Regions from separate parts of the Homo sapiens genome. Here all the other regions are reported to be linked to region 1. Evidence: microRNA targets listed by miRTarBase, many of them from high-throughput screens and not tested one by one. Region 1 holds a microRNA gene; each other region holds the end of a gene's coding sequence. Distances are between the middles of the regions.

Region 1 (4,933 bases):
ATCCTACTTACTCATGTCACAAAACAGGCTAGTTAACAACTAGAACATATCTAGAAGAATAATACTAAACAAAAACCAAAATTATATAGCTTTATATCAAAGTTTTCCATAGTCAATGAAAGAAATATTCTGGAATATTTAAATACACTTGGTTTTGGAGGACAAGGCAATAAAAAGATTGAATAAAATTAGATATTTTACATAGATACACAAGATGTTTATATTTTGACACATTATATATTTTCTTGTAAGTTCCATGAGAAAAAGGACTTTGTTTCTGTTCTCTGCTATATCCCCTGTGCCTAGAAGTTCACATAGTAGATGCTCAATAAATAATTCTTGAATGATGAATGAATTTCAGCATGTATTTCAATAAGCTTTGAAACACCTACATTCATGACTAAAAGTTAACCATAAATTTAGATCTGGAATATTTGAATGTCCCCCCTTTTAATTTAGGCAGAATAATAAAATGCTATGGCAAAGCATATGCATCATTCTCTGCTGCTTAGAGTTGCTTTTCCCCTTACCCATATTATCTGCCTCTCCTAGCAGAAAGCAAAATTTCAAACATCTATAACAATTATTTCTTTGAGAAGACTGTAGAGCATTGTTTCAAAGAGGGTTTTCTTAAGCCTGTAGGCAAACCTAAAAAGGTAAATGACTCAATCAAGCTGGCACTTCAACAGTGTCTACCACTGCTTCAAGGCCAGCCTGTTCAAATACTTCCCTGAAATCACATGCTAAAGTCATTGTATTTAAACTTTTTTTCTATAAACTCATATGAAACAATTACTCCTATTGTATTAGGCTCTACAGTCAGTGCGGAGGTAAAATTAAAAGCTCCTCTAATACTTCTAAAGTAGTAGAGTGTCTTTTAGTTTAAATGACTGATATATGCTGATATGCCAAGACTAGAGTAATTTTGTTCAGATTTGTTTAATTTTTAATAGAAGCATTAAGTTAATTATTTAACTTCTTAAGGGCTTGTTATATAAAAATATGCCTTATTTAAATATTCTCTTTAACAAGAAGGCTTATTTCATAATAATTTTAAATAAATCAGCAATGGACTCAAATTTCAGGTAAGTTACATTCTAGATTAGATGTTTAATAGACCTTTGATTTAAACGATTTACATGAAAGAGTTTTTCTGGTTAAGGCTGAACTTATGAGTTCGTTCTGTAGATTTTTCTTAAAATTAACTTCTTGCATCCCATCCCTTACCTCTACATTTTCCTTCCTCTCCCGTCCTCCAACAACAATTCTATTTTTTCCTGAAATGTGTAACTATATTCTAGCTTTAAAGAGCAGACCTTATTGTTTGCCATTACAATTCCTAAAGCATGGGGCTCCAAGGTGCCTTTGATCCCTGATAAAATAGCAAGTCCAAGGACACTAGAATTTTTGCTTCAAGAAAAGCAGACTTCAGTGTGGAATGCTCTCAGGTTAAAGGAGAAATGTTTAGCTTAACGTATAGGTAATGTGTTGCTTTTACAGATCAGACTGCAGCAACCCACAAAATGTAGCCTCATACAAGTTAACCAGAACTTTTGTCACTTGGGTATTTGGTAATCTTTTTTTTCTTTTTAAACTAAGTGAAACAGTTCAAATATAACTGATATTATAGATTATCTTACATTTCTTTGGATGACTTAGTCAATTCACCTTTTTTCCTTTTACAGTTGACCTCAGAAACAAACACGGGATAGGATCAATTCTAAGACATAGAAATATTCAAAATCCATTTCTCTTTAGTTGACTTCCAAGGCAGAAAGAGTAAACAGCCTTCTCCCAGCTTTCTTACTTTCCACAGCTGAGAGTGTAGGATGTTTACAGTATCTGTCGCTCAGTGCTCTCTAGGATGGGGTTGGCAGTCAGCAGCACAAGCCTCAGGAAACCCAGTACCATTTGAAGATACCATAATATGTCACAGGAAAAGATCAGAAAAGTATACTTGGGACTAAATTATGGCTCTTTTAGGAGTAGGGTTGGAAGGGTGGGTGGGGAGGCTATATGACACTTACTTAGTGCTGCCTGCTCAGTTCTTGTTTTCTTCCTGTTTTGCACATCCTAAGATATTCCTAAGGTCTCTAGCTTTGAGCTTGCACACTCACGGATTTGGTTAATTTTGGATTTTCAATATTCTATGCTTTCCCAAAAGGGTTTCAAAATATTCGCCAAACTCCTTCCTTAAACAGTACATAATCCCTTTCTGACTGTTGGGAGACATGAAATGCAGCTTCTCACTCTCTGGGCTATACAACTTTGTTTCAGCTCACTCCTGCACAGAACTGAGAATAATGGCTAAACAGAAGACCAACAGTTTAATTACTGAAAATTAGTTACCTTAATGATGGGATACACAGTAATAAATTTAATCAAATGAGCAAAAAGTAAATATGTTAGAATACAACTTTACATGCATAAAAATGGTATATTGCAAATTGCTAATATAATGCTAAAATTATTTTAAAAATTCATATTCGGACAGAAGTGAACCTACAATTAGAGGCATACACATGAATGGAGTCAGTTGCTTCCTAAAGTTATTTTCTAAGAATGACTTATTCAAATAGTTCTTGGACTTCATTTGCTAAACTGGTCTAAGGTACACAAAATACTTGGGCGAAGAAGAAAGTCATCATTACTATACATCTCAGAACAAACCTACCTGATAAGAGACTACACTGTAAACCCAGGTGGCATATAATTCCAAACTGTTACAGGATCTTACTCATTTCATTCATTCATTCATTCATTCAACAAACAATTGTGACTGCCTGCCATATATCAGCAATGTTTTAAATTCTAGGTGATGAGAAATGAAGGGTATCATCCCTACCTTCGAGAAGGACACAGCTTAATTTGCAAGACAGACACATACACCATTACTATAAGTGTTATGATGGGTCAAAAGACACTTCTGAGTTGGCTAATAGCCAGGCTGAGTCTTGAAGCCTGAATAAAATTAGCTAGGTGAAGATGGTGCTAATGGGAATTTGGAAGGGGTGGGCAGTGAAGAAGATAGTGTAGCTTAAAGTGTACCAGAAAGAACAGTCATCCAATAGAGAAAGAAAGACAAAGGTAATGTATGCTGAGGCCTTTAAGAATTCAGCAGAGGTGGAGTCAAAGATGCATGTGGGTGAAGGGTAAGGGGAGAGACACAAGGGAAAGATGGGAGTCCTTATGTGCCAGGTTAAAGGGTTTGGGCATTATCTCCAAACGATGGGTACGAGTGAAAGATAGTAAGCAGGCAAGTGGGATGACCATGTCAGTACTTTAGAGAATTTACTCTAGCTTTAAGGTGGCAGGTAAGGAAAACAGGAAAAGAATCACTGCAGTAGTGTAAGGGAGAGCATGGGAGCCTTAATTAGGGAAGAGGCAGTAAGAACACAGAGAAAATGAATATGAGAAATTATAAAGACAAGAAGAACAGCAGAATTCAGTGAGTGAGTAGCTGAGGGGAGAGGCACTGTGGAGATGGAGAAGTCATGGGTAATTCACAAGCCTGGCTTGGGCTTCATAAGGCCTTTCATGCAGGAGGGAAAGAATAGGAAGAGAAGTGGAGAAGGAAAGAGCCCTAAGAATGATAACTTGAATGGGCTGGGCTGCAAAGTTATGACCCCATGCTCATTGAATACTGAATTCTGTCACAACTGAAAGGGTGAAAACACTTGAAGAACTAAATCACACAAACCTGTTCTTTATTCTGTTTCTGCACTTCTGCTTACTCTTCTACCTGGCAAGTGCCCATACAGTCTTCAAATCCCAAATCAAGTATTCTCTCTTGTGAATCCTCTCTGGTCAGCGTCATCCCTAACACCCACACCCCTCCCCCAACCTGAGGAGGAATTGTTCATTTTTCCTTTTACCACCATTATACTGTGCCTAGGTCACATAATTGCATATGCCTAGATCACAGAACTGATACTTTATTACAATTATTTGTTTACCTATCCATCTCTCTACTAGGGAAGAAACACCATGTTTCGTTTAACTTAACTTCATTTCATCAGAAGAAATTCACAACATGTATCCAGGGTTTGTCTGGTACTAAAGGAGGTTCTCAGTGAAGGTTTGATGAATGAATGAATGAATGAATGAATGATGCCATCTACCACCTGACAATGGGTTAACAATGTTAAGATGATTATTCAGGTTTTAAAAATCTCTAAATAAAAAATATTTACCAGTTTCTAAAACTTTGTTTTTATTCCCCCAAAATTCAAGGTTAGGCTGTTTTACTTTTCTAAGGAACTCATAGCTAAGAAGAGAAAGCAATCTCTCCTTAAATGATGGCATTAACTCCTGGAAAGTTAACCTTTTATGAAGGCAGCCTTATTTTAAAATTTTATTTTCATGATGGATTTCAAGTGAAGAAAAACCAGGATACACAGTAAATGCAGAGAAGAAATCTATGTAAACAGTTTAAAAATAGACAAGAATGAAAGAAAATGGTCATAAAATGTGGGTATCAATACTGAATAATTATGTAAGAGCTTAAAATGTTCTACATGGAAAGAACCACACCTTATTAAATAGTCACTAAAATAATTTTAGCTACATGAAATGATTTTAACTTCTTAAAGTCAAGTCTGAAAAGTTCCTTTTGTAACGTGAAAGCCACTCTCTTTTGCTTCAGTAGGGCTTCTGATGTAATAGGCATTTTAGTCACATAAAACTAATCTCCAATAAACTAGCCTTTGGTCATTTTTAGTTCTGAATGAAAATACATTTATTTCAAATGTAGATTATATTTGATCAAATCTGTCACATTCTGTATCAAAAAACCTTATCCATTGATTTAAAAATATTCTGCAGTATTACACATCAACTTTCAGGATACACAGTGGCTTTTCCCAACTCCCAATGTTCATTTTTTAAATTAAAATGTAGCAACTTTACAGTATGTAAAGTTTTTAATTTAAAA
Region 2 (4,933 bases), not on the chromosome of region 1:
CATAGCACAGTCAGTTCCTCTCGCTGCTGTTTAATGTTCTTAGGAGAGATGTTCTGTCTTGAGTTTTGGAAAAGTCTAAATCAGAGATCTATTTTTTAGCTTTACAAAACAAAATCAATTGCTATAAACAAGTTCCTGGCTGGGTGCAGTGGCTCACGCCTGTCGTCCCCATGCTTTGGGAGGCAGAGGCAGAAGGATTGCTTGAGGCCAGGAGTTCCAGACCAGCCTGGGCAACAAACAAGACCCTGTCTCTACCAAAAAAAAAAAAAAAAAAAAAAAAAAAAAAAAAAAAAAAAAATTCCTAACCACTGTTTGGCCTTAATAATGCCCAGCAGTGGTTGAGCATTAATAATAGTTGGGCCTTCATAATAGTCCTGTTGGGCCTTAATAATAGTCCTGTCTTTACATATTGGACTTTTAAAAAAGAATAAACATTAAGATAATTCAAGAACTTGGGAAAGATTTCCTTGTCATCAAATGTTTAAACAGTTCCTTGAATGCTCGGGGCCACTGACCGTTGCTAATTGGTTTATCATCATCAATCCTGCAGTTTATGGTCACTCCCCTATACTAAGCTGAATCATATCCTCTCCAAACTCACGTCCACTGGAACCTATGAACTAGCTTCCTTATTTAAAAGGGTTTCTTGTGCTACACGGGGAGCAGATGGACTTTGAGCCTTACTGACAATATCACTTAGGAATAATATAAGATCGCTTTTGGCTTTAGTGACATTTCTTGACCTTTGCTTCAAAGGGCTGGGATAGGCTACACGAGTTCAGGACTGGCTCGCTGGTTATTGCAATGCGTACAGAAGTTGCATCTTAATCCTCTACCATAAACATGGCCCTTTGGTGAGTCAGAGAACAGCTTCCTGGAAGGGTAAGACAGTGGTAGTTTCTGACACACCTGTCATTTTGATCCTCCTGGAACGATTTGCTGTCATTCCAGAAGGTATGCATCCCCATCACAGAAGAAAGAAAAAAACATTTCTGATGCCCCCTCTTCTGGCTGGATAGAAGCCCAAGACTCTGACCCAGGTCAGGGCCTGGGAACTGAGACTGGAGTACTGCAGTTAGTGGGGCTGGAGGGAACACCAAAGGAGGCCTGAAGTCTGAGTCCCAGGAAAAGGTAGGCTTGGGAAGCTCATAGCATCCACAGCATTATGTTTAAGGCCTGGGTGGAAGCAAAGGTTCACATCAGGCAGGATGGCAGACTGGGGAGAACTCTCTTGCAGAGAGAACTCTCCACACACAGAAGCCCTGTGGAAGAGTCTAGGGGTGAGATGGGGGGCTAGCTGCCAACAGACAGCTTGGGCAGCCCTTAGAGGATATGACATGGTTCAGCACCAGAACCTAGGAATGATCTTAACAGACAAGGGGGTCCCAGGGTGCCTAAAATTGGGACCAAAGCAAAAGGCAGCCAGATGCAGTGGCTCACATCTGTGATCCCAGCACTCTGGGAGGCAGAGGTGGGAGGATCAGTTGAGCCCAGGAATTCAACACCTGCATAGGCAACATGGCGAAATTCTGTCTCTACAAAAAAATACAAAAAGTTAGCCAGTGTGGTGGTGGACGCCTGTAGTCCAAGCTACTCTGGAGGCTGAGGTGGAAGGATCACTTGAAACCAGGAGGTTGAGGCTGCAGTGAGCCATGATTGCACCACTGCACTCCAGCCTGGGCAACAGAGTGCCCTGTCTTAAAAAAAAAAAAGGAAAAGAAAAAGAAAAGAAAAGCTCTGAAGAGGCTGTCTGGGAGACAGAAGGTATTGGGTGCAAATACAGTCTGAGCCTCGTTGGTGGCAATCACAGTCTTTAATCATTAATTGTCATATTTCTGATTTGTTAGCAAGTGCCAGCTTGTAGGCTGGTTGAAGTACAGAACTCAGAGGAAAAAAGAAATTAAATTTTAGCTTTCTGGAGAGCAGCCCCTCTCTGGCACCATCAAACACTTCTTTGTTTCCCTTCAACTTGGAACTCTTCAAACATCAGGGGTTGTGAGGGTTTGGCCATTCTTTTATCTTGGGTCCATGTGAGTGACAGAAATGGTGCGGCCTGGGAAAGATCTCCCTCCTTTACATTTTCTCTTCTCCCTCCTCCTCCTTATTCTAAAACTGTGCCTCCAACAGAGGGGCAGGGGCTCTTGTAGAGAGATCCCTGGCCCAGGACAGGAGATGCCAAATCTAATTTATCTCACTGAGGGCCTTTGAGAAAAACGCTTCAGGGCCAGGCTCAGTGGCTCATGCCTATATAATCCCAGTACTTTGAGAAGCTGAGGCGGCAGATCACTTGAGGCCAGGAGTTCGAGACCAGTCTCGTCAACATGGCGAAACCCTGTCTCTACAAAAAAAAAAAAAAAAAAAAAAAATTAGCCAGACATGGTGGCCCACATCTGTAGTCCCAGCTACTTGAGAGGCTGAGGCATGAGAATAGCTTGAACCTGGAAGGCAGAGGTTTCAGTGAGCCGAGATTGTGTCACTGCATTCCAGTCTGGGTGACACAGTGAGACTTTGTCTCAAAAAAAAGAAAAGAAAAAAAGAGGCCGGACGCGGTGGCTCACGCCTGTAATCCCAGCACTTTGGGAGGCAGAGGCAGGCGGATCACGAGGTCAGGAGATCGAGACCATCCTGGCTAACACGGTGAAACCCTGTCTCTACTAAAAATACAAAAAATTAGCCAGGCGTGCTGGCAGGCGCCTGTAGTCCCAGCTACTTGGGAGGGTGAGGCAGGAGAATGGTGTCAACCTGGGAGGCGGAGGTTGCAGTGAGCCGAGATTGCGCCACTGCACTCCAGCCTGGGCGACAGTGAGAGACTCCGTCTCAAAAAAAAAAAAGAAAAAGAAAAACGCTTCACTCTTCCAAACCTCAATTTTCTTATGTGTGAAATGGTAAGAATGTGGGTTTATAATTACCTGTGTGTATGCTCATCATACATGACCCCTAAGGCCTTAGGACTCGAGACATTTTATGACCTCTCCCAATAGGGGCAGAGGTGAGCACCCCTGGTGAAAAGTTAAGACTCAGTGAGTATAAATACGCCAAGAAGAGCTGTGGCTTCTTTCACTGGTGTCCTCAGAAAGGCTGTGAGCAGTGTTGGTGGCATACCTGTCACAGCATCTAGCAAAGCACCTGAATTCTAGTATGAATTCAAATACATCTTTTGATGGAAGGAAAGAAGAAGAGGGGAAGGACGGGAGGGAGGGATGGAGTGGAGGGAAAAATTCTGTTGACATCCCATGATAAGGGTGCAGAGGGGCGCTGCACGTCTCTCCTTTCTGCAATCAGCTCTCCCACCCTGGTCCCTCTTCCTTCAAGGGACCCATGAGGACCTCTATTCTTCTCCGTACCTGAGGTTCTCTCAACAGAAAGAAGTTGCAAGTGGGACCTCCTCATGCCACCCTCATCCCCAATAGGAACAATTAGGCCAGGCTTTGATGTCACTGAGGAGGGGACCAGCACGCCTCTGAGGACAGTAGGAAAAACCTAGGCAGGTGTTAGAGCAGGGAGTGGGGTCCCCAGGAGCTGAGGGCCCCAGGATCGACATGATTCTGAAGGTGATTGTCATGGGTGCAGGGAGCAGGCGGCGACACCGTCTAGGCTTCCTGGGGGCCGTCCTGGGCCTCGGCGGCCACGGTGCTGGACTGGAGCAGGAAGTCTTTGTAGGCCATCTCGGCTTCCTCCTTGGATGACTAAGGGGCAAGAGGAGAGGCATCAGTGTTGGGGGCACTGGCTCAGTGGGTGGAGTCAGGGGAGGGGAGGTGCTTAATGTCCTGAATTCGTGATCTTGGTCCAAGCAACACAAGCCTTTGGGGCCCACTGTTCTCATCCCAGCCCCCATGCTCACCAAGAAGGACGCATTTTGAGAAATGGAAAGTTGCAGCCTCTAAAAATATCTTCTTCTGTCTCACTACCTCCTTCTGACACACGGAGTGGAACCGCCTCTGTTGCCCGGGCCTGTCCCCGGAAGCTGCCCACACAGTCCACGGGCAAGGTGGCCTAGGCTGGGGTCAACCACGGTGGTGTATGTTTTTCTTTCTCCACCAGCCCAGACAGGTAGCTTTTTGGCACCACAAAGTTAAAGGGGAAGGCTGTCCCAGGAATAACTCGTTCTAACTTTGCTAAATGCCAGAGATGTTTCAAGAAAAAGTAGATATGATAAAAACAACAACAACAACAACAAAAACTCTCACCTCGGGATTAAAGGCATGAGATGTTATTTTTCTTGGTCCCCTGAGTCCTAGGGCAGATTGAGGGGATGGTATATGGCACCCAAGGCAGGAGTTGCCTCTGGTGGGGCTTCAAGAGAAGTGAGCAGGGGCTTCTAGCCTCAAACTGCCCACCGCAAGCAAATGTCTCCTAGGCCCAGGCAAAAAGCTGGTCCTGAGCAAACCCTCAAGGGAGGATGTGTGGCCTGAGGTCCTTGGGTCCCCCAACCCAGGAAGAGCATCCATTTAATCACCAGCATTTGGCATTGTAGCTTCCCATCTTTTATGCACCTGCTTTCCTCATCTCCTGGCCTGCCTCTCTCCTGCAGTTTTACAGCCTAATCATATAGCTCACCTCCTTCCTGGGCCTTATCCACATCAGCATCCCACAACCAGTAAGATATAGTTCTTCCTCAAAAAGTCCTGAGGACTCCTGAGGACTATTTATATCATCCTCCCTATTCTGGGATCGGCCCCCATGTTGAGGTAGTTCTTTCTGAAGTCTAACTGCATCCCCTCATGCTGCATTTCTTTGTCATGTAGTGGGGCTTCCTTCTTCCTCCTCACCCTTTTTGCCTTCTTGGGTTCTTTGGTCTCTGTGGTGCTCTCAGTGGTGGCAACAAACTCTGTGTGAAGAAAGAGGGTAGGTTAGCCCTTACTAGCCTCCTTTTCCCAACCCAGATGTGAGACCAATTCTTACTCTCCCCAGGGGCTGAGCATTCCCTTGAGTG
Region 3 (4,933 bases), not on the chromosome of region 1:
AGGATTCAGAGAATGAGTGGCTGAAAGGCTTGAAATCATGATTTCACAATGTTTGGGGGGTGAGACCCAGGCATCAGCATTTTGAAGCCACCATAGGTAATTCCAAATTGCAGCCAAGGCTAAGTTGGAGACAACTGAAGGGAAGACTAACAGGATAACAGATAACAAGATACAAATTGGGGTAGTCTGAGTTAAGAATCTTGACCACTGAATTCTCAAACAACGAGTCTAAGGCCATGATAGTGATTCGCTAAAGTGAACTGGAAATGAGGGTAACTGGAATTGATAAAATTGAGCTTGAGGAACTACAGGGCCATCTTGATTTGAAGGTATGTCTTGTATGTCCTCCTAGAAATCCTCTATGCACAAACTTACCTAATTTTACATTTCATAGTTCATTGGAGATGTCTCATTTCTCCAGTGATAGAACACTGATCCGCTTATGACATTTAATTATAGGTCATGGTATTGATCCTACTTCTTGGAAGATTTTTCTTCACTTCAAAAACTATGTGACAATGAGAATAATTGCACTTTACATTTTAATTAGACAGATGCTTGGGGAATTGGTTAATTAGAAAGCCCTTTTTGTTGCAACCCTTACTGAAAACTTTCAATAAAGATATTCATCTAATTAAATAGTAAGTACAAATTCCATTAAGTAAACAATTAGGCATTTTTCAATGGTTTGGGATCTATTGTAGGTAATTATTCTGAACAAGTTGTCACTGCCTGAGAGACTGAATACCTGGTACATCTCTCAGAAATGTTAACTTTTTTTTCCCATTATGGTATTTTCTTTAACTTGCTGTTTCTAAGAATGGGATCCTATTAATGTATACCAGTTACTAAGGTTTTGTTGAACTTTTTTATATAGCCTCCCCACTCCCCACTCCTTTTGTGACATCTAGTTATGGGACCCAAAAAAGACATTTTCCCAGGTTTCAGAAGAGGAATATTGGTGTTTCTCTAGAGCAGTTGGTTTATCATACAGCAGAACACTGAACACAGAACTGATTGTGTTGGATGCTAAGAACCTAGCCCAGAGCCCAACTTTATCAACTGTAGTCTTACAGCATCTACTTTGTTTTAAGAACATTTTGGGCCAGACGTGGTGGCTCCTGCCTGTAATCCCAGCACTTTGGGAGGCTGAGGCCGGTGGATCACCTGAGGTCAGAAGTTCAAGACCAGCCTGGCCAACATGGTGAAACCCCGTCTCTACTAAAAATACAAAAATTAGCCGGGTGTGGTGGTGGGTGCCTGTTAATCCCAGGTACTTGGGAGGCTGAGGCAGAATTGCTTGAACCCGGGAGGCGGAGGTTGCAGTGAACCAAGATCATGCCACTACACTCCAGCCTGGGCGACAGAGCGAGAGTCCGTCTCTCAAAAAAAAAAAAAAAAAAAGCATCTTGGAGCCAGATGGTGTATAAATACAGCATTCTTTTCGAAATCTTTCAAGATCTTCTCAGGGGTATCTTGAAGGTCTCTTTCACCAGCACACCTGACTGTGGCAGCCCTTTGGATTCTTTATACTTTTCTGGTATAAAGCCTTCAAATAGTTCCAGTTGGCTGGGCATGGTGGCTCACACCTGTAATCCCAGCACTTTGGGAGGCCGAGGCGGGTGGATCACTTGAGGTAAGGATGGCAAAACCCCATCTCTACTAAAAATACAAAAGTTAGCTGGGCATAATGGCATGCCCAGTAGTCCCAGCTACTTGGCAGGCTGAGGTATGATAATCGCTTGAACTTGGGAGGCGGAGGTTGCAGTGAGCTGAGATGGCACCACTGCACTCCAACCTGGGTGATGGAGTGAGACGTCTCAAAAAAAAAAAAAAAAGTTCCAGTAGGTGAACTGAGTTTAGTGACACAGGCCAAAGTCAGTAAAACCTGTTTCTCAAAAGACTTGCTTATTAAAAAGCAAAACATAACTTCATCCATTATTTAAATATCCAGGTATTTGTAGAAGGCCAGAAGCACTAAAGGATACAATTCTCTCATACTGGGTCCTTATTTTATCCAGTAGAAGGCAAAACATAGTATTCCAGAAACAAAAGTAGTTTTTTTTTAAAATAAAAGAGAACAGACATAGATGCTTCCCTAACTCCAACTATGAATGTTATTGTCAGTTCTGCTATTACTAGCTTTTGACTCCAAGCAGTAAATATGAGATTTTGGACATAGGTATGGGCAGACTGCATGACTAAAACACCAAAAGCAATGGCAACAAAAGGCAAAATTGACAAGTGGGATCTAATTAAACTAAAGAGTTTCTGCACAGCAAAAGAAACTATTATCAGAGTGCACAGGCAATCTACAGAATGGGAGAAAATTTCTGTAATCTATCCATCTGACAAAGGGCTAATATCCAGAATCTACAAAGAACTTAAACAAATTTACAAGAAAAAACCCCATCAAAAAGTGGGTGAAGGATATGAACAGACACTTCTCAAAAGAAGACATTTATGCAGCCAACAAACATGAAAAAACGCTCATTATCACTGCTCATTAGAGAAATGCAAATCAAAACCACAATGAGATACCATCTCATTGCCAGTTAGAATGGCAATCATTAAAAAGTCAGGAAACAACAGATGCTGGAGAGGATATGGAGAACTAGGAACACTTTTACACTGTTGGTGGGAGTGTAAACTAGTTCAACCATTGTGGAAGACAGTGTGGTGATTCCGCAAGGATCTAGGACCAGAAATACCATTTGACCCAGCAATCCCATTACTGGGTATATACCCAAAGGATTATAAATCATTCTACTATAAAGACACATACACAAGTATGTTTACTGTGGCACTGTTCACAATAGAAAAGACTTGGAACCAACCCAAATGCCCATGAATGATAGACTGGATAAAGAAAATGTGGCACATATACACCATGGAATACTATGTGGCCATAAAAAAGCATGAGTTCATGTCCTTTGCAGGGACATGGCTGAAGCTGGAAATCATCTCAGCAAGAACAGAAAACTAACACAAGAACAGAAAACCAAACACTGCATGTTCTTACTCGTAAGTGGGAGGTAAACAATGAGAACACATGGACACAGGGAGGGGAACATCACACACTGGGGCCTGTTGTGGGTGGGGGACTAGGGGAGGGATAGCACTAGGAGAAATACCTAATGTAGATAGGTTGATGGGTGCAGCAAACCACCATGGCACGTGTATACCTATGTAACCTGCATGTTCTACACATGTACCCCAAAACTATTATTAAAAAAAAAAAAGATTTCATATTTGCTGATATCTCAAGGAAGCAGTATGCTGGAAAAATAGAGGTAAAGTGAATAGTAACATAAAGGAAGCTACAACTCACCAAGTATCAACAGAAATGACCAACACTCCTTGGGTGCCAGAAACCAGCTTAGCCAGGGTGCATACTGTACCACTGGAGAAGAGGTAAGCTGGGTTAACTTCGAAGAAACCCTGGCCAACTTAAATTATAGTTTAATCCTGTTTTACTTGGACCACAACACTTAAATCTAGATAAAAACCAATTATTCCTCCCTGTTTCAGTTGCCAAGCAAGGAAAACAGCTCCTCTGCCCAAGCTTTCTAGGTCATATTCTTCATATCTTTGTATCCCAACTTTCTGGATCTGAATTTTATAGCTAACTATAGGGCATTGCCTCTCTACCATCTCCCGTCCCCTACACAGACACACACACACATACACACATAAAACTACCTATTAATTACAATAATGTTTATATATCTTTGATCATTTTTTAAAGTTCTTTGAACATGTTAGCAAACTTTATACTTCCTATCTTTTAATTAAATTTTCTTTAAATAACTAAGCATTGAAAACTTTACAAACCATCAGTTATCTTAAAATGGTTGAGATTTTTTTTCCTTTTTTCCCATAAAGAGTCTACACCAGGGTGGGTCTTTTAGACACCCCTATTTTCTAAGGGCATGTAATCGATTCTCAAATCAACTTTTTCCAAATACAAATTCCTGTATGAACAGGGCCAGTCTATGGTAAATTAATTTAGATGATGGTGTTAGTTTTCCAAACGTCTTTAATAAGTAAATAAAGGAGCAATGTAAAATGTTGCAGTTTGCTTGGTAAATCTTAATTGCGAAATTTCTTCTTCTTTCGGAACTTTTTTCCTGCTGCATTTGCTGCTTTTTCAGCCATGATCTCTGAGTACTTCCTTCGGTTGTATCTGAAAAAGAAAAATCAGAACTTTATGTTTGATATATCAGACATTAGAAGTTAATATAACCTTAGGGTAAAAGTTGGGAATGGAGTGGTGGACAAGACAAGTATAGTCTCTGACCTCATAGCACTTGCTTGCAATCTAGGGAGAAAAAATGGCAACTGTAGTAGGAAGACTTTCCTACTATATGCACTATATCCATCTATCTATCCATATATCCATATATGATCTATATATGCACTATATCCATCCACCAGGCTGTATCAAATGCTTTAAACATTTTTGAGGGATAAAAACACAAAAATCAGGACTAAGCAAAACAAAAAGTCACACTTATCCTGAAAATGCACAGTATGATATATATATTTCTTAGAAGCGACCAATGGTTTTCAAAGTGTGGTCTGTGGAGTAGACCCTTTCAAGGGATTCATTAGGTAAAAACTATTTTCTCAAGAATACTAAGGCATTAATCGCTTTTTTCACCCTCGTTCTCTCATGAGTGTAGTGTTTTCCAGGGGCTACGTGATGTATGTTATCTGCAGAAGCAGGTATGAGCCTCTGTCTTTAGTTAAGCCAGACATTAAAGAGATTTGCACTAAATTATTTTTCATAAAAATATATATTCATGTTAATATGTTATGGGTTATTATAAATGAGTTATTTTTAAATTATTTGAAAATTTATAAGTTTATACATTTTTAAAGCAAAGTATACATATTATAAAATAAATATGAATTCCTTTACCTTCTGAAT
Region 4 (4,867 bases), 7.8 Mb from region 1:
TGAGCATTTAGTCACATTTGGTAGACAACAGGGTTTAATAAGATTTGATTAAACATTAAAATGAGAATGCTTTTGAAAACATTTCCATGTTAGAAATTTAGAATTATTACTACAGTGTTTATATTAATGATCTAAAATGTTTAAATATTCTTCTGACTTAGGATTGGCCTTTTGATGATGGTGCACCACCATCCAACCAGATTGTTGATGACTGGTTAAGTCTTGTGAAAATTAAGTTTCGTGAAGAACCTGGTTGTTGTATTGCTGTTCATTGCGTTGCAGGCCTTGGGAGGTAAATGAATTTATCAATTTGATTCTAGGTAAAAATCTATTGATAATGAAAATACAGAAACTTGAAAAATTCTTATAATTTTTTAATATAAAGTCAACATTTGTCATAGGTATTACTTAAATAGGAAGGGTGGTAGATAATACTTCTGAGTTGGGGAATGTTTGGAGAAATAAATTTACAAAGATCTGATTTTGAAAAAACTATTTATCAAAATTCTTACCTCACCAGAGCTCCAGTACTTGTTGCCCTAGCATTAATTGAAGGTGGAATGAAATACGAAGATGCAGTACAATTCATAAGACAGTAAGTAATGGATTCTCTTTTCATTTGTACTCTCTTTCATTTCCTTGTTGAGTGTCAGTGAGTTTAATAGTCTAATAGCCCATTTAATCATTATGATTATTTTTTGAGATAGTATTAAAACCAGGAAATCAAGATCTTACATTCTTTTTTGCATTTCATGCAGTTGCTCATATTACTAAGATTCTAATCCAACAAGAGTTTTTGAATTATTGTTTTGCTTTAAATACTTGATTGAATATGTTGGTTATTTTGTATTTTTATTGAGGTATAATTAAGATACATTTAAAGATACAATAAAATGCACAGGTCTCCAAAGGAGACCAGTTGACAATAACAGCCAAATTAACCATCCAATACAACACATAGAATATTTTGAGTGCTGTAGAACATGCCTTTGTGGCTTTTGTAGTCATCTTCCCTGCTACCAGAGGCAACTTCTGACTTCACTATAAATTAGTTTTGTCTTTTCGTGGACTTACGTGTAAATGGATTTGTGAGTCGACTGTTGTAACCAATACTCAAACGAAGATATAAAGAAAATTAACTTTTTATGATTTTTTCCATTTACACTGATGTGCCTGTTCATATTCCTTTCTGCATCAGGTCACAGCCTAATTAATCAAAAGATAAATTGCCACAAGAGAGGTGATGGTTGTCTATAAGACACTAAATATTACTGTAGGGGGCTTTTGCCTTGTTTCATTTTTTTTTTTTTTTCCTCCCAGAAAGCGGCGTGGAGCTTTTAACAGCAAGCAACTTCTGTATTTGGAGAAGTATCGTCCTAAAATGCGGCTGCGTTTCAAAGATTCCAACGGTCATAGAAACAACTGTTGCATTCAATAAAATTGGGGTGCCTAATGCTACTGGAAGTGGAACTTGAGATAGGGCCTAATTTGTTATACATATTAGCCAACATGTTGGCTTAGTAAGTCTAATGAAGCTTCCATAGGAGTATTGAAAGGCAGTTTTACCAGGCCTCAAGCTAGACAGATTTGGCAACCTCTGTATTTGGGTTACAGTCAACCTATTTGGATACTTGGCAAAAGATTCTTGCTGTCAGCATATAAAATGTGCTTGTCATTTGTATCAATTGACCTTTCCCCAAATCATGCAGTATTGAGTTATGACTTGTTAAATCTATTCCCATGCCAGAATCTTATCAATACATAAGAAATTTAGGAAGATTAGGTGCCAAAATACCCAGCACAATACTTGTATATTTTTAGTACCATACAGAAGTAAAATCCCAGGAACTATGAACACTAGACCTTATGTGGTTTATTCCTTCAATCATTTCAAACATTGAAAGTAGGGCCTACATGGTTATTTGCCTGCTCACTTTATGTTTACATCTCCCACATTCATACCAATATACGTCAGGTTTGCTTAACCATTGATTTTTTTTTTTTTTTACCAAGTCTTACAGTGATTATTTTACGTGTTTCCATGTATCTCACTTTGTGCTGTATTAAAAAAACCTCCATTTTGAAAATCTACGTTGTACAGAAGCACATGTCTTTAATGTCTTCAGACAAAAAAGCCTTACATTAATTTAATGTTTGCACTCTGAGGTGCAACTTAACAGGGAGGGCCTGAGAAAAGAATGGGAGGGGGCTATTAATTATTTTTAGCAAAATGTTGCCTTTGTCTTGTGCAAACATGTAGAATATGCTCTTTAATTTAGTAAAATATTTTTTTAAAAGGTAGAGATGCTTTGTTATTGTAATCATAAACTTCCTGAAATTCTTGTAATTTTTTTCCCATACTTATCAGAAGTGTGTTTACCAACTTATTTTTGTTTGAAAGTGTGATTTTTTTTTTCCTTCCCAACCTCTCTTGCAAAAAAAGAAATGGGTTTCTGCTAATGAATTGAGCAGACATCTAATATTTTATATGCCTTTTGAGCTGTGTAACTTAATATTTGGATACTTGACAATTTGTTTTATTATGTAATTGATAAAATGGTGATGTGTATTAATGTTAGTTCAACCATATATTTATACTGTCTGGGGATGTGTGGTTATAGTTCTGTGGGAGAAATAATTTTGTCAGTGTTCACCAGCTTGTAAAAACTTAGTGCGAGAGCTGAAACATCTAAATAAATAATGACATGCATTTATCATCATTGAGATTGGTTTGCTTAAAATTAACTTATTTTGTAGAAGACAAAATGAATTGCACTTCACTTAATGTGTGTCCTCATCTTTTTACAAATAAATGAAGGATTATAAATGATGTCAGCATTTTAGTAAACTTTTAGACAAAATTTGTTAGGGTCATTCATGAAAACTTTAATACTAAAAGCACTTTCCATTATATACTTTTTAAAGGTCTAGATAATTTTGAACCAATTTATTATTGTGTACTGAGGAGAAATAATGTATAGTAGAGGACAGCCTTGGTTTGTAAAGCTCAGTTCCACTAGTTCATGGTTTTGTGCAACTTCTGAGCCTCAGTTTTCTCCTTTGCAAATTAATAATTACATACCTTTATAGATTTTGAAATTAATTTAAATATTAGTATTTGGTACATGAAGGCTTAATGTTAAGTTTCCTTTAATGATCCACAATAATCCCTTTGATCACGTTAATCTAAATCTAGATGTCTTTGTCTAATTTTTTTTGAATAGCAGTTATAAATGTAAAGGACTCAAAGTTTAAGTAAAAAGTGATACTCCACCTTGTGTTTCAAAGAATTTAGTTCCACCTCTTCATACCAGTTTAACACTTAATATATTTCATTGGATTTTAGACAGGGCAAAAGGAAGAACAGGGGCCTCTGGAGGCCCTTGGTTATTTAAATCTTGGATTATTTGTGATAGTAATCACAAATTTTTGGCTAATTTTTAACCTGAGGTTTTGTTTTTTTTTTAAAGGAAATGCAGCCTAGTCTTGAGAACATAATTTTATATAATCAATTACTAAATGTTAAACTATTACCACACAGCCCATAAAACAGCATTTGCGTTTATTGAGAGAGAGGATGTGCCATCATGATTAATGAAAACTATCTTTTGAGTTTGAAAAGAAATTAATTTGCAGTGTTTGGATTGTATATATGGTGCTAAAAATAAATTAATTTACTTTATAAACCTTATCTGTACATTATACGATGTGATGAAATTTGCTTTTTATCCAAATATTTTGTATCTTGTAAATATGGCTAATTATAGGAATGCCTATAATACATCTTAGATTCCTTATATCTAATAAGAGTTCAAAGAGTTATGAGTTGAAGTCTTGAATGCAGGAAACTATCTGATAGTGTTCTAAAATTTGGTTACTTGGGTTTGGATACCCTTAGTGGGATGATGTAAATAGAGGCTAGCTACCTAGGCTTGTCTATAGCAACCATAATGTTGATGTAAGTAATGCGGTTACTGAATCATAAGAAAATGCCATCTCTTTTTAGTTGAAGGAAAACTCTGGAAGTAGGTGCCATTGGTCATTCTGCAGTGCACTGCAACCATTGTTTCCCCTAGTGCCCTCTTTTCCCTAGGGCATTGCTCTCCTATTCCCACGCCTTAACACAGCTCTATACCTAGAAGCAGCCAGCCCAGGCATGCAGTCACATTTAATCACATCCCCCTTCTAGAGTGCTTCAAAATGATGTAGTCCCTCAACTTGGCTAAAGAATCTCAATCTCTTGAAATTTATTTTTTTAATGTCATATTCATCTGGTAAATATCTACTGTTTGCCAGGCATTTAAGAATATGGCAAAGAACATAAAAGATGGTGTCACCAGATTTTGGTCACCAATGAGTACCCGACCCGTTGCCATGATTAAGAGAGAATGCTTTCTATTGGAGTTTCAGGAAATATAATTTGAGAATACTTTAAAGGGAAGTGGAAGTATAAGTGAATGATATTTTTCTTTTACATGTAAACAATGAAGTTATTTCAAAGTTAAGTTTTAAACAAAATACATGAAGTAGTGTCTGCCATACATGTTAATATTCTACATTCTTGCTTCCTTAAATTAATATGTTTGTGTGTATATATGTGCCTCACACCTGAATTGAAAATTAAAGACTGGTTTAAAAGTGGTTTAAAAGTGACATTTAATGTTTCTCCATTACGTTTGGGGTAACCAGCCTAAGTGGAATCTTGGAAGGAAAGTAAGGGAAAAACTTGTATTTGCCTTCAATGAATTAAACCAGTGATATGTGTTAACGTATGAATGAAAGGATTGATGGTGATTTTATAATTATATATATTGCCGCAGTAACCAGTTAATAAATTGATAGCTACCATTTATTAATGATTTTATTT
Region 5 (4,933 bases), not on the chromosome of region 1:
AAGCAGAGGGGCACCCAAGCAGAACCTAAGGTGAAGCTGTTCGGGTGGTGCAAAAAGATGGTGGTGACAACGAACCCTCACTTCCAGCCCCTTAGCCCCCAGGGAAGGCAGGGCAGTACAGGGCCCATCAATGCCAGTTACTCACGAGACTTGAAACTCAGAAAGGTGCCTGTCCCTGCCCAGGGTAACCCAGCATTTAGCAGCAGACCTGGGCTGAGAAACCAGTTGTCCTGATTCCCAGTTTGGTGCTGGTTACTCCACACTGTGATTGTGATGCCCCTAAGAAGGGAATTACCTGGTCTTAGTGCCTGGTTTCTATTTGGGTTTGAGAGAGAAAGGAAGGGATCTTTCTTAGCCCCTTGGTGTAGGTAAGGAAGGAGAGGTATTGCTTGCAGCAGAGAGAGCTCCTCTGATCTTTGGGCTGGTCCCACCTGTGTAGACCAGAAATGTCCATTCAGGGCTGTTTAATTCCACTGAAATATTTTGCCTGCCTACTGTGTGCCAGGGTCTGGCCAGCCATCCCCAGTTGTTTACCATACTTAGCATACAATGTTTAGTGGCTTCAGTAAGTTTTACTGCTGCATTCCTAGGGTAGAATAAAATACGTTGACTTGGCAGAACTGCAATCTTGACATAGCCTTTTCATGTTAATAAATCCTACATTTGGCTATTTTAATTCCAAATATATATTTTTCTTTCAGGAGAATGAAAGAGCAAAAAGAATGTCATTTCGCCTGGCCAACAGCATCTCTCAGGTGTGAGAGCCAAAAGGAGACTGGGCACTCTGGCAGCTGTTGTCCCATACTGTCGACCATTCCTCCCCATCTTGCAGCTTATCCTCTTCAGAGTGTGGATGGTAGATGAGTCTTGTTGAACTGTGTAGTGCTCTTCTTTGCCATTTGCATCTACAGCATTTATTTGGGAGCCGTAGTACATCCACTACAGAGAAGATTTCAGTAATAAACAGGAAAGAGGAAGGTATTTATTATTACCAGAGTAATCAGATGTATAGGCTCCACTTGACAAGACCACACCTGGTTAGGCTCGGGAAAACCTACTTTCCTTGGTGAATTTTTTTCTGCCTGGGAAAGCAGACCCGTCTAACCTTTTAGTGTCCAGGGCTCAGGAGCCATGTATACATCTGAACTCCTCCTGGGCTCAGAAGTGGGTAAAAGAAGGGAGAGAGGTTTAGACATATGGCAGGACTGTGATCCCTGGCCCAGCACAGCCAAAGACTGTCACTGTTTGCCTTTGCTTGTCCTGTCTGGATAGAGGCACCTGCCATGTGCAGACTAGTGGAGGCTTCTAGAGGCCATAGGTCTCAATTTGTGCCTATTTGGGTTCTAACGGTTTTCAGGGTATTTGTTTTGCATAGTCACTTTCCTGATGTTGACATAGGTGGCTGCTGTGAAAATGCTGTGGATGGTGTGACATTCTTGACTGAGCTGGGTGGCTGTGGAGAGACCACTTAAATCTTCTGGTTCAGATTTCACTTACAGACTTAGTAAGATGTCCACTTCAGAGCCCGCCCTCTGTGCTACTTACTCTGGGCTAATCACACTTCTTTAGGGTGAGAACCTGCCTTCCTAGAAGTGACTGTTGGTGCTTGTCAGTGGCCATACCCTTCATCATCCTCATTCAGAGGTATGGATCGTGAGTTCTGCTTGTGAATACTGTGAGACAGCTGCTGTCTGCTTCAGGTCCAGAGTTCCATGGGTGGAGAGAGTAACCCACAACCAGCTCACTCCTCTGGGCCTCTCCTCCTGCTTAAAGATTCTAGTTCTCAACCTCTCCAAGTTCATGAGCCAAAGATCAGAAGTGAGTCTTCTGACCAGCCCGCCTCCAGGCTGTCTACAGCCCCAAAAAAGCCAACACTTTTCTGGCAGCCCTTTTTGTTGGAGGTTAGAGAAGGCCTCAGGGACCAACAGGGGCCAGATCTAGACATTCCTGGGGGAAGTTTGTCTAAGGTGGACAGGGGGAAAAATCAAGAGGCAAAAAGCCAGTGTCCTTTGGTGACCATGAAGCAACCTCAGAGCCTTAGTTCTCCTAGAATGCAGAGAGAAGCATTCTGGAAGCCATGGGAACAGGAGCTCGAGGCTGCATCCTGAATGCATCTGCATGGCCCTCGCAGGGTGTTTGTGAGGATACTGGAGGTCAGGCTACCTCCCAAGCAAGGGCTTGGTTGAGAAGGAACCCATTGCTCATATTGTTGGGGGAGCTATGAACCTGACATGTCAGTGGCCAGGACTGAGACAGCTCTCCCTGGTCCTGTCATTGCATGGCTAATTTCAGGGGAGTCTGAGGTCATGGCTTTATTTTTGCTAACAGATGAAGTTCAAGGATGTTCTTGTTTGTAGGGCCTTTGCTAATGAGCAGTTTTTTAATTAGAAAACATTTCTTCTCTCTTTGTGAGTTGATGGTATTGCTCATTTCCTTCTCTACCCAACCTGAGAGATCATCTTCACTTTAAAGCAAACCATGCCCCTTGGCTTGCCATTCTTTCAGCAGCACATGCCACGTTCTAAGCAGATGGGCTTCCGTGATCCCGTTTTCTAGTTTGGGGTAACTGAGTCTTGAATGCTTTACTAGTCCGGCAATCTTTGGACTTAGGCTTCTGCCCTTTGAGACTCACATGACTTTCTGGTTTGGGGTCTGGTCATTTCCCTTTCAATTTTTGAATCTCCTTCTCTGTTCAGTTGGCTTGGCAAAGTACCCTCTGTTCTCATGTCACTAATTCCTGCTCTAGGTCATCTTTCCTTTGTGCAGCCCACATTCCCACCATCCTGTGAACTTTGTTGTACTTGGTGTTGGGCAACTGGTGAGTGTTGTGACAGGCTCAGACCTGATCCTTCCTCAGGAGCAATTGGAGACCACAAATTTAAAGCAGAAATACCTGTTAAAAGCTTGGCTTTCCTTATATGAGTGAGGCTCCCAGCTTGGGTGTGGCCTCCTGGGCTCACGGATCAGCTTGCTGGGCCAGAGGGGGTCTTAGTAATGTGCTAGAGAGACACATGCTCCCTTCTCATCGTAGAGAGCCTGCATGCTGAGAGGCTCCCTTTACACACCTGCCTCTCGCTGGCTTTTCCTTTAGACCTAGCCACCAGTGTTTTGAATCATGGTTTTGTTTTGTTTTTGCATGCAAAAACCAGAACATGACTTAGAAATTAAAAAAAAAAAAATCCTACTAGCCAAGTGACTGCCTGCAGAGGCTCTTCATTAACATTTGGGCTGATCCTGCTTTTGACTTATTCCCATAATGGCCCAGTTTTGAAGTCAGCCAAGTCCTTTTGTCCTTGACAACATCATGCAGTGGAAATACGGTGAGTTCTAGATTCTTATGGGACAGCATGCAGCCCTAGAGGAAAAATTGACTTCTTGGGTATGCTGAGAAATAAGACAGTAAAATGGCTTCAGTTGATGCAAGGGGATTTTAGTTAAAAATTGGTTCAGGATTTTTAAATTTTATTTTATTTTTTGGCTGGGCGCGGTGGCTCACGCCTGTAATCCCAGCACTTTGGGAGGCTGAGGTGGGTGGATCACCTAAGGACAGCAGTTCGAGACCAGCCTGGCCAACATAGTGAAACCCTGTCTCTACTAAAAATACAAATATCAGCCAGGTGTGATGGCACATGCCTGTAATCCCAGCTACTTGGGAGGCTGAGGCAGGAGAATTGCTTGAATCCGGGAGGTGGAGGTTGCAGTGAGCTGAGATCATGCCATTGCATTCCAGCCTGGGCAACAGAACGAGACTCCGTCTCAAAAAAAAAAAAATTGGTTCAGGATGAACTTGCAGAGCACTCTTCCACAGAACATGGTTAGGTTAGCCCTGCCTGACTTCTAGCAATTGCTAACTATACACCTTGCCTGCCTCTAGGACCCCTACCTGAGTGGCAACCATACCTTCCATATGCTCTGTTCCATGGCAGTCCCTGCCATCCCCCACCAGCGGACTCTGGCTCCCTCCCTGTACCCATTTCTAGCAACAGCTCCTTGCCTGGCTGCTAAGACGGAGGCGCCTCCTTGTTTGTTCCTGGGCTCTGTTCTGCTCCCTCTCTCACTCCATGGAGTCACTTATAGTCTTCCTTTCTGAACGCCAGAATTGAGCCTTTGCTCCTTCTGGATCACCCCTTCCTGGGCTTCTTCTCCATCCCTCAGTACTGCTAAAATTGCCCTGCTCCTTTAGTCCATTTCCATGACCTCAGCCCTCTCTCTCCTCTCCTTGTCTTTTAACTTTCTCCTGGACTTCTTCCTCTCCCCAGCATGAACCCAGAGCCTATCACACACTGATGTTTTTGTCAGCATCCTGAACTTTCTCATGCCCTTCAACTTTATTTATTTATTTATTTATTTATTTTTTATTTTTTGAGAGAGAGAGTCTCACTCTGTCATGCAGGCTGGAGTGCAGTGGTATGATGTCGGCTCATTGCAACCTCTGCCTTCTGGGCTCAGGTGATCCTCCCATCTCAGCCTCCTGAGTAGCTGGGACTACAGGTGCATGCCACCATGCCTGGCTAATTTTTCTACTTTAGGTAGAGATGGAGTTTCGCCATGTTGCTCAAGCTGGTATCAACACTCCTGGGCTCAAGCAGTCTGCTTCCCTTGGCCTCCCAAAGTGCTGGGATTACAGGCGTGAGCCACTGCGCCAGGCGTATCCCCTTCAATTTTGCTGAAACTATCAGCCATTCTCCATTTTCGGCATCATCATATTTGCTGCTTCCACCTCCTGGGCTGCTATGCATGACAGATTCACAGTTGGCAGCCTCAGTTGAGCTCTCAGTGTTGACTGGAAATTCTTTAACTTGTTGTGATCCCTTTTTTTTTCCCCACCCATGCCTCCATCTTTGTCCTCCACAAATGACTGAGCTCACTGTCTACTTCACAGAAGACAGCCCCTAAAGCAAGAGCTTCCTTGCCTGCTGTTCCTCTCTCCCCT
Region 6 (4,933 bases), not on the chromosome of region 1:
TTTCTTAGCAGAGCATAAAGTGATTTTGACAATGGTAGTCCTGGATTTGATGATATACCAGGAGTTTGACTGTTGTTCATAAAAGCAAACAATGTATATGTTTCTGTAACTATACAGATTTAAATTGCAGAGTGTTGTCTGTTTGGAGATGTACTCCAAAGTTACCAATGGATTGAGATGGGGAGAGGAATTAGGAAAAGGGCTAAATGCTCTTGGTGTGTTTCTGTTTGGTTTGAATGTTTGTAACAAACATGTCTCCCTATATTGCTGGTATTGCCCCGTCCTTTGAGACGAGGGGCAGTTGGCTCTGTTAGACCCTGGGCCAAGTGGGAGACCAGCTGTGGGCACTGAATGTGGAAGTGGCAATGTGAGCCCTGGCTGGGGCATGGCTGTCTTGGGCCCTGAAGCTGCCCTCCCAGCAAACCAGCAGATGGCCTGAGGGCCCCCAGGGATGAACATTGCTCCCGACTGACACACAGCTGCCACGCCCAATATGCAAGCTGTTAGAGGCCAAGCTTGGGAGCTTGGTGACCACAGCAGATGCCTTGATGTTGTGCGCCACTGTCCCTGGGTGTTCCTCTGATTTTGGCAACAGTAGGCCCACACGTGGGACATGCATGTGCCAGGGAGCTGACAGCCCTGGAACAAACTTTCCACCTGGTGGGCGAGAGCTGTGGGTCAGTGCTGCAGCATCCTGCTCCTTCATGCAGAAGATGTGGGGAGGCCCCTCGCACATCTCTGCAGAGTAGAGTTCCCAGTGTGGTCTCAGTAATGCTCCTCTGAGTGGCTTGCTCAGACACACACACTAATCGGTGCCCCTGGCTACCTGTCTGTCTCTCCTGAGGTCCCTCAGCACTCAGCGTCCTATCTGTGTATTTCTGTTGATAGTAGCTGCCTTTGAGGCTGGTCTGGCAAGCGTACTTTTGCAGACCTCAGCTCCTTCAGAGGCGTTGGGCTCAGGCAGGGCTATTTGGGTTCATTGGCCCCTGGTGGAGGCCCAGTTGGTGACTTCCTTTATGCCTCTTCCATACCTCCTTTTCCTTGGATCCCTCTGCCCCTCCCCACTGTGTCCAGCTGTGCCTGCACCTTCATGTATCCAGGTCTGCTTACCCCAGGGGAAGGGCCAAGACCACATCCACAGCAGAGTGGATGCTGCTTGTCTAGGATGGAACATTGGGACCCACAGACCCATAGAGAGAAACTGGTAACAAAAGGGCCCACAACAGCAAACACCATCTCACAGCAGGCGATTTTTTTTTTTTTTTTTTTTTTTGCAGAGGAATGAAATTAAGAGATTTAAAGACAAAAACACAGGCTGGTAGTCAAAGTAAAGGTTTATCCTTGCATCAGAATGGTTTAAATCTTGCAATTTGCATATACAAAGAGTTCAGCAACATTCACTGGCATTATAATCAGAGCAAGATCAAATTATAAATGTAATCAAAGAAAATATGATAGTTGAAACTGTAATAACATACATACATTATAAAGACTGCACATAAGTTAAACACAACTTAGTTAAACAAACAAACAAAAAAGTATCAGTAATTATACACTTAAAAGAATAACATGGGGATGTCTCCAAATGCTGAAACACAGGTGTCAGGCTCATTTAAAAAAGTGTTTAAAAACACATAAAAATACCTTTTAAAACACTGGTATGCATTCTTCATTCATATAGCACATGGAGAGAAACCGTAAAGGCAGTCACATAGTGACCAGATCACACACAGATCAGAATGGTCGTCTTCTAATCACTATTTGGCATTTGAACCCAACTGCATGCAACAAAGGAAAGTGTGAAAGGAACAATGGTGTCGGCACTGGGCTGTTTGGGGGCTGTTTTGTTATGTACAATGGACTTTCTTTGACTGAAGGAAACAAGAGATGAACTTTCCAGGTTGCACGGAGAAGATTCTGAGTCCCTCAGGGATTGATTCCCCCAGCGTGAGGTGCTCCAAGGCCCAGGAGATCCTGTGATCTGGGGCCTTGGTAGAGGCCATGAGGCTGTAATGACCTCCCCGCTAAAGGGCGAACGCTGTCCCGGACAGTGGAGGGGAGAGTCTTGCGTCCTGGGGAAAGTGGCTTCTCCTTTGTTCCTGGAATGGAAAAAGTTTGGGAACAGGCAGAACCCCTGCAGTGGACACCTGGGGTTGGTCTAAGGGGACAGGAAAAAAACATGAGCAGGGCCCTTTCCTGAGGGCACCCTGAAAAGGTCTACCTTAAAGGTACTTCTTGATACAAGAGATGCCAGTTAGACCATTAAAGGGCTTCAAGGATTCTGACAGAGGGCTCCTAGACATGAACCAAAGCCGGTGCCCCTCGACTTTGACTTCGAACTCTCAAATAAATGACCAGAGAAATGTCACCTTCATCGTAGCAAACTGGCTCTTTTTCTAGGGTTCAGGTGCTGAACAGAAGCTTACTTCCCTCTCTTCTCCTTCAGTCAAACAAAGGCTTTGGGTTTGGAATTTTAATGGTGAAAACAAAAGGGACCTGGCGAGCCTCAAAAAGCTCCATTTTCCTCTTCCGCCGAGATGCTGAATCATTGTACAGAGAAGGAGAGAGGAGCACGTTCAGCAGTGTGCAGCCCAGGCATGCAGCTGGTGAGGATGGCGGTCACAAAGTGTGCTTTCGTCCTTCCAGCTGGGCACCAAGTCTTGCCCTTGGATGGGGCTCAGAGCCGTGGAGTGGGCGAGAAGCTTGATTCCCTGTGAGCATCTATCAGAACAATAATGTGTCCTGGGGTTGCATTTGCACACACTGTTAATGAATAGGGGACGAACACTGCAACATGAGGGTGCGATCAGTTATCAGTGAAAATGTCAAATAAGGCCTTTATGTAGCTTTTAGAAAACAAAAAAAAAAGTACCAAAAATGCACGTGTTAAATGCTTTTAGTAGTAAGGTAGGCCAGATATCTTTTTGTTTATATTGTGCACATCTGCTAGGTACCTAATGGCCATAGAAAGATAACTGCTGTAAGATTCAGTGTTGGTACATTCACACCCCATTCTTTTTTTTTTTTTTTCCCCGTCAGTCAATCTTATCTGGTAATGGGATCATTACTGTTATCCAGTGTCAATGGTCTCAGTAGTATTTCCATTCAAAAATAATTTAGCTTTTAGATTAAGGATTTCTCTTTTTGTTTTATTAAACATTGAAAGGTGGGACTTTAAAAAATGGTATAAATCTAGATTTTAAGGATTCTTTTCTTACAAACTGTCTCAGCTTTTTACAAGAAATGTTTAAATACCAAAATGCTGCTCAGAAAATTTAAAGTTTAATTGCCCGTGGTTATTCTACTGTTTCTATCCTAATGTGTGCTCCTCTGTACTGCGTGTGTAAGACGCTCAGTTCATCTGAATGTTTGGATGGGAAGTTTTGTGTTGAGCCTCCAGGCATAGCACTGGACCAGCCCAGGCCGCTGTGGCAGAACGGGAGGGGAGAATGGGAGAGGCAGCTGGTTTTTTTCTGAGGGTGGTCTGGGCCAAACGACAGGCAGCTGGACAGCAAATGGTGCTTTGGGGTGTAACTCCGATGGCTGGTTTTGTTGTACCCAACGCCGTGGGTCAACGGGACCACCCAGCATTTACATCTCTTCTCGTTCAGCCAAGATAGTGTAGACACAGTCTTGATGGTGTAGACACAGCATTTTAAAATATTATTTATAGTCACCAGCTACTCTAGTGTGTTTTAGACCTGGATTCAGGTTGTAAAGACTTCTTTGATCTTTAAAATGTAAAGATAAACCACATGGACCGAAACTGAGAACTTTACAGAAGTCCCCATTTACATTGTACCATCACGAACAGTTTGCCTTCCAAAAATGCTGCTGTTCAGGGTTGTGAATTCACTGTTAGGAAAGTGCATTTTCGAACTGACTTCTGAGTCCTCAACTGTTTTCTTAACATGAGCTTTGTGTTAGTATCTTGCAGAGGCACACTTCGCATATTAAGATTACAACATTTAAAGGTGTTGAATATGTGAAATTAAATGATATGAATCTAATGAAAAATTAAGATATTTACTAATATTAGCAGAAATATATATTTTATGGGATATTATTTGACCTTAATACATTATTCCAATTTTTAAAAAGCATATTTAAGATTTAACAACTGTATAGCAGGTGGCCTTTAAGGCATAACAAAATATATACAAAGAAATTAGGGAAGATATTAATGTCAACTATGAAATAAATTAACATGATTTTTACAAAATATACTGACCATTAAATTAAAAAATATTTTAAGGCAGGAATCTTCATTTGAAATTAGCATAATCAGAAAATATATCAATAAAATCTTGTACCACTTTGTAGCAGAATTCATACTGTTCCTGAAAAGACAAACAAGGACACATTAAAATGATATTCCCAAAAATATATTTGATTAATCAGGAGAAATACTCAAAAACAAGACATAAATAAGTGTGACTATTCATTAAAATACCATATACCTTTATGCACATCGTAATTTAGTTTTTAGGCACATGCAGAATTCCAAATAAAGCTGTTTTTCTACGTAGAATGTGTCAGTTAGTGTATTAACATTTCAACTTAGTGTATTTAATGGGCTGAGTTAAATGTCTGTGGCTTTCACATTGAAACTGGAAAACAACTATTTTTGAATTTAAAAAAAAAAACAAAAAACCAGGCCAGGTGCAATGGCTCAACGTCTGTAATAAGAGCACTTTGAGAGGCTGAGGCAGGAGGATCACTTGAGCCCAGGAGTTCCAGACCAGCCTGGGCAACATGGTGAAACCCCATCTCTATCAAAAAAGATACAAAAATTAGCTGGGCATAGTGGTGCACACCCATAGTCCCAGCTACTTGGGAAGCGGAGACAGGAGGATTCCTTGAGCCCAGGAGGCAGATTGCAGTGAGCCAAGATTGTGCCACTGCACCACTGCACTCCAGCCTAGGTGACAGA

What was found. The annotated mature microRNA hsa-miR-30c-2-3p reads CUGGGAGAAGGCUGUUUACUCU and lies in region 1 at 1,777-1,798, opposite strand. An mRNA with a match to its seed (bases 2 to 7 or 8) in the 3' UTR can be bound and repressed. Matches are read on the target gene's strand: a 7mer-m8 pairs with bases 2 to 8, a 7mer-A1 pairs with bases 2 to 7 and ends in A, and an 8mer does both.
Region 2: the mRNA of PIGR is a reported target of hsa-miR-30c-2-3p. Seed matches in the 3' UTR shown: 7mer-A1 at 2,711-2,717 and 7mer-A1 at 2,577-2,583.
Region 3: the mRNA of DNTTIP2 is a reported target of hsa-miR-30c-2-3p. Seed matches in the 3' UTR shown: 7mer-m8 at 2,321-2,327, 7mer-A1 at 1,749-1,755, 7mer-A1 at 1,606-1,612, 7mer-A1 at 1,278-1,284 and 7mer-A1 at 1,142-1,148.
Region 4: miRTarBase lists PTP4A1 as a target of hsa-miR-30c-2-3p. Seed matches in the 3' UTR shown: 7mer-m8 at 1,947-1,953.
Region 5: miRTarBase lists TRIM66 as a target of hsa-miR-30c-2-3p. Seed matches in the 3' UTR shown: 7mer-A1 at 2,164-2,170 and 7mer-A1 at 4,605-4,611.
Region 6: the mRNA of PTPRE is a reported target of hsa-miR-30c-2-3p. Seed matches in the 3' UTR shown: 7mer-m8 at 3,451-3,457.

What each region holds. Positions count from the first base shown.
Region 1 is chr6:71,375,188-71,380,120 of GRCh38, forward strand. MIR30C2 (microRNA 30c-2) reads right to left here and starts at 1,844; the gene lies at 1,773-1,844.
Region 2 is chr1:206,926,728-206,931,660 of GRCh38, forward strand. PIGR (polymeric immunoglobulin receptor) reads right to left here. Exons shown (of 11, transcript NM_002644.4): 10 at 4,770-4,828; 11 at 1,795-3,686. The coding sequence ends at 3,591. Among named protein-coding and RNA genes, the nearest start is that of FCMR, 7.3 kb to the left of the region's middle. RefSeq lists enhancers at 2,875-2,924, 3,395-3,684, 3,611-4,111, 3,735-4,304.
Region 3 is chr1:93,865,759-93,870,691 of GRCh38, forward strand. It overlaps DNTTIP2 (deoxynucleotidyltransferase terminal interacting protein 2), which reads right to left. Exons shown (of 7, transcript NM_014597.5): 6 at 4,925-4,933; 7 at 526-4,186. The coding sequence ends at 4,093. Among named protein-coding and RNA genes, the nearest start is that of DNTTIP2, 11 kb to the right of the region's middle.
Region 4 is chr6:63,578,737-63,583,603 of GRCh38, forward strand. PTP4A1 (protein tyrosine phosphatase 4A1) reads left to right here. Exons shown (of 6, transcript NM_003463.5): 4 at 162-292; 5 at 521-595; 6 at 1,321-4,852. The coding sequence ends at 1,438. It overlaps LOC128125822, which reads left to right. Exons shown (of 2, transcript NM_001415059.2): 2 at 1-4,852. Among named protein-coding and RNA genes, the nearest start is that of PTP4A1, 8.7 kb to the left of the region's middle.
Region 5 is chr11:8,613,772-8,618,704 of GRCh38, reverse strand. It overlaps TRIM66 (tripartite motif containing 66), which reads left to right. Exons shown (of 25, transcript NM_001388022.1): 25 at 702-4,933. The coding sequence ends at 761. Among named protein-coding and RNA genes, the nearest start is that of STK33, 22 kb to the right of the region's middle.
Region 6 is chr10:128,082,239-128,087,171 of GRCh38, reverse strand. PTPRE (protein tyrosine phosphatase receptor type E) reads right to left here. Exons shown (of 21, transcript NM_006504.6): 21 at 1,317-4,340. The coding sequence ends at 4,266. Among named protein-coding and RNA genes, the nearest start is that of AS-PTPRE, 22 kb to the right of the region's middle.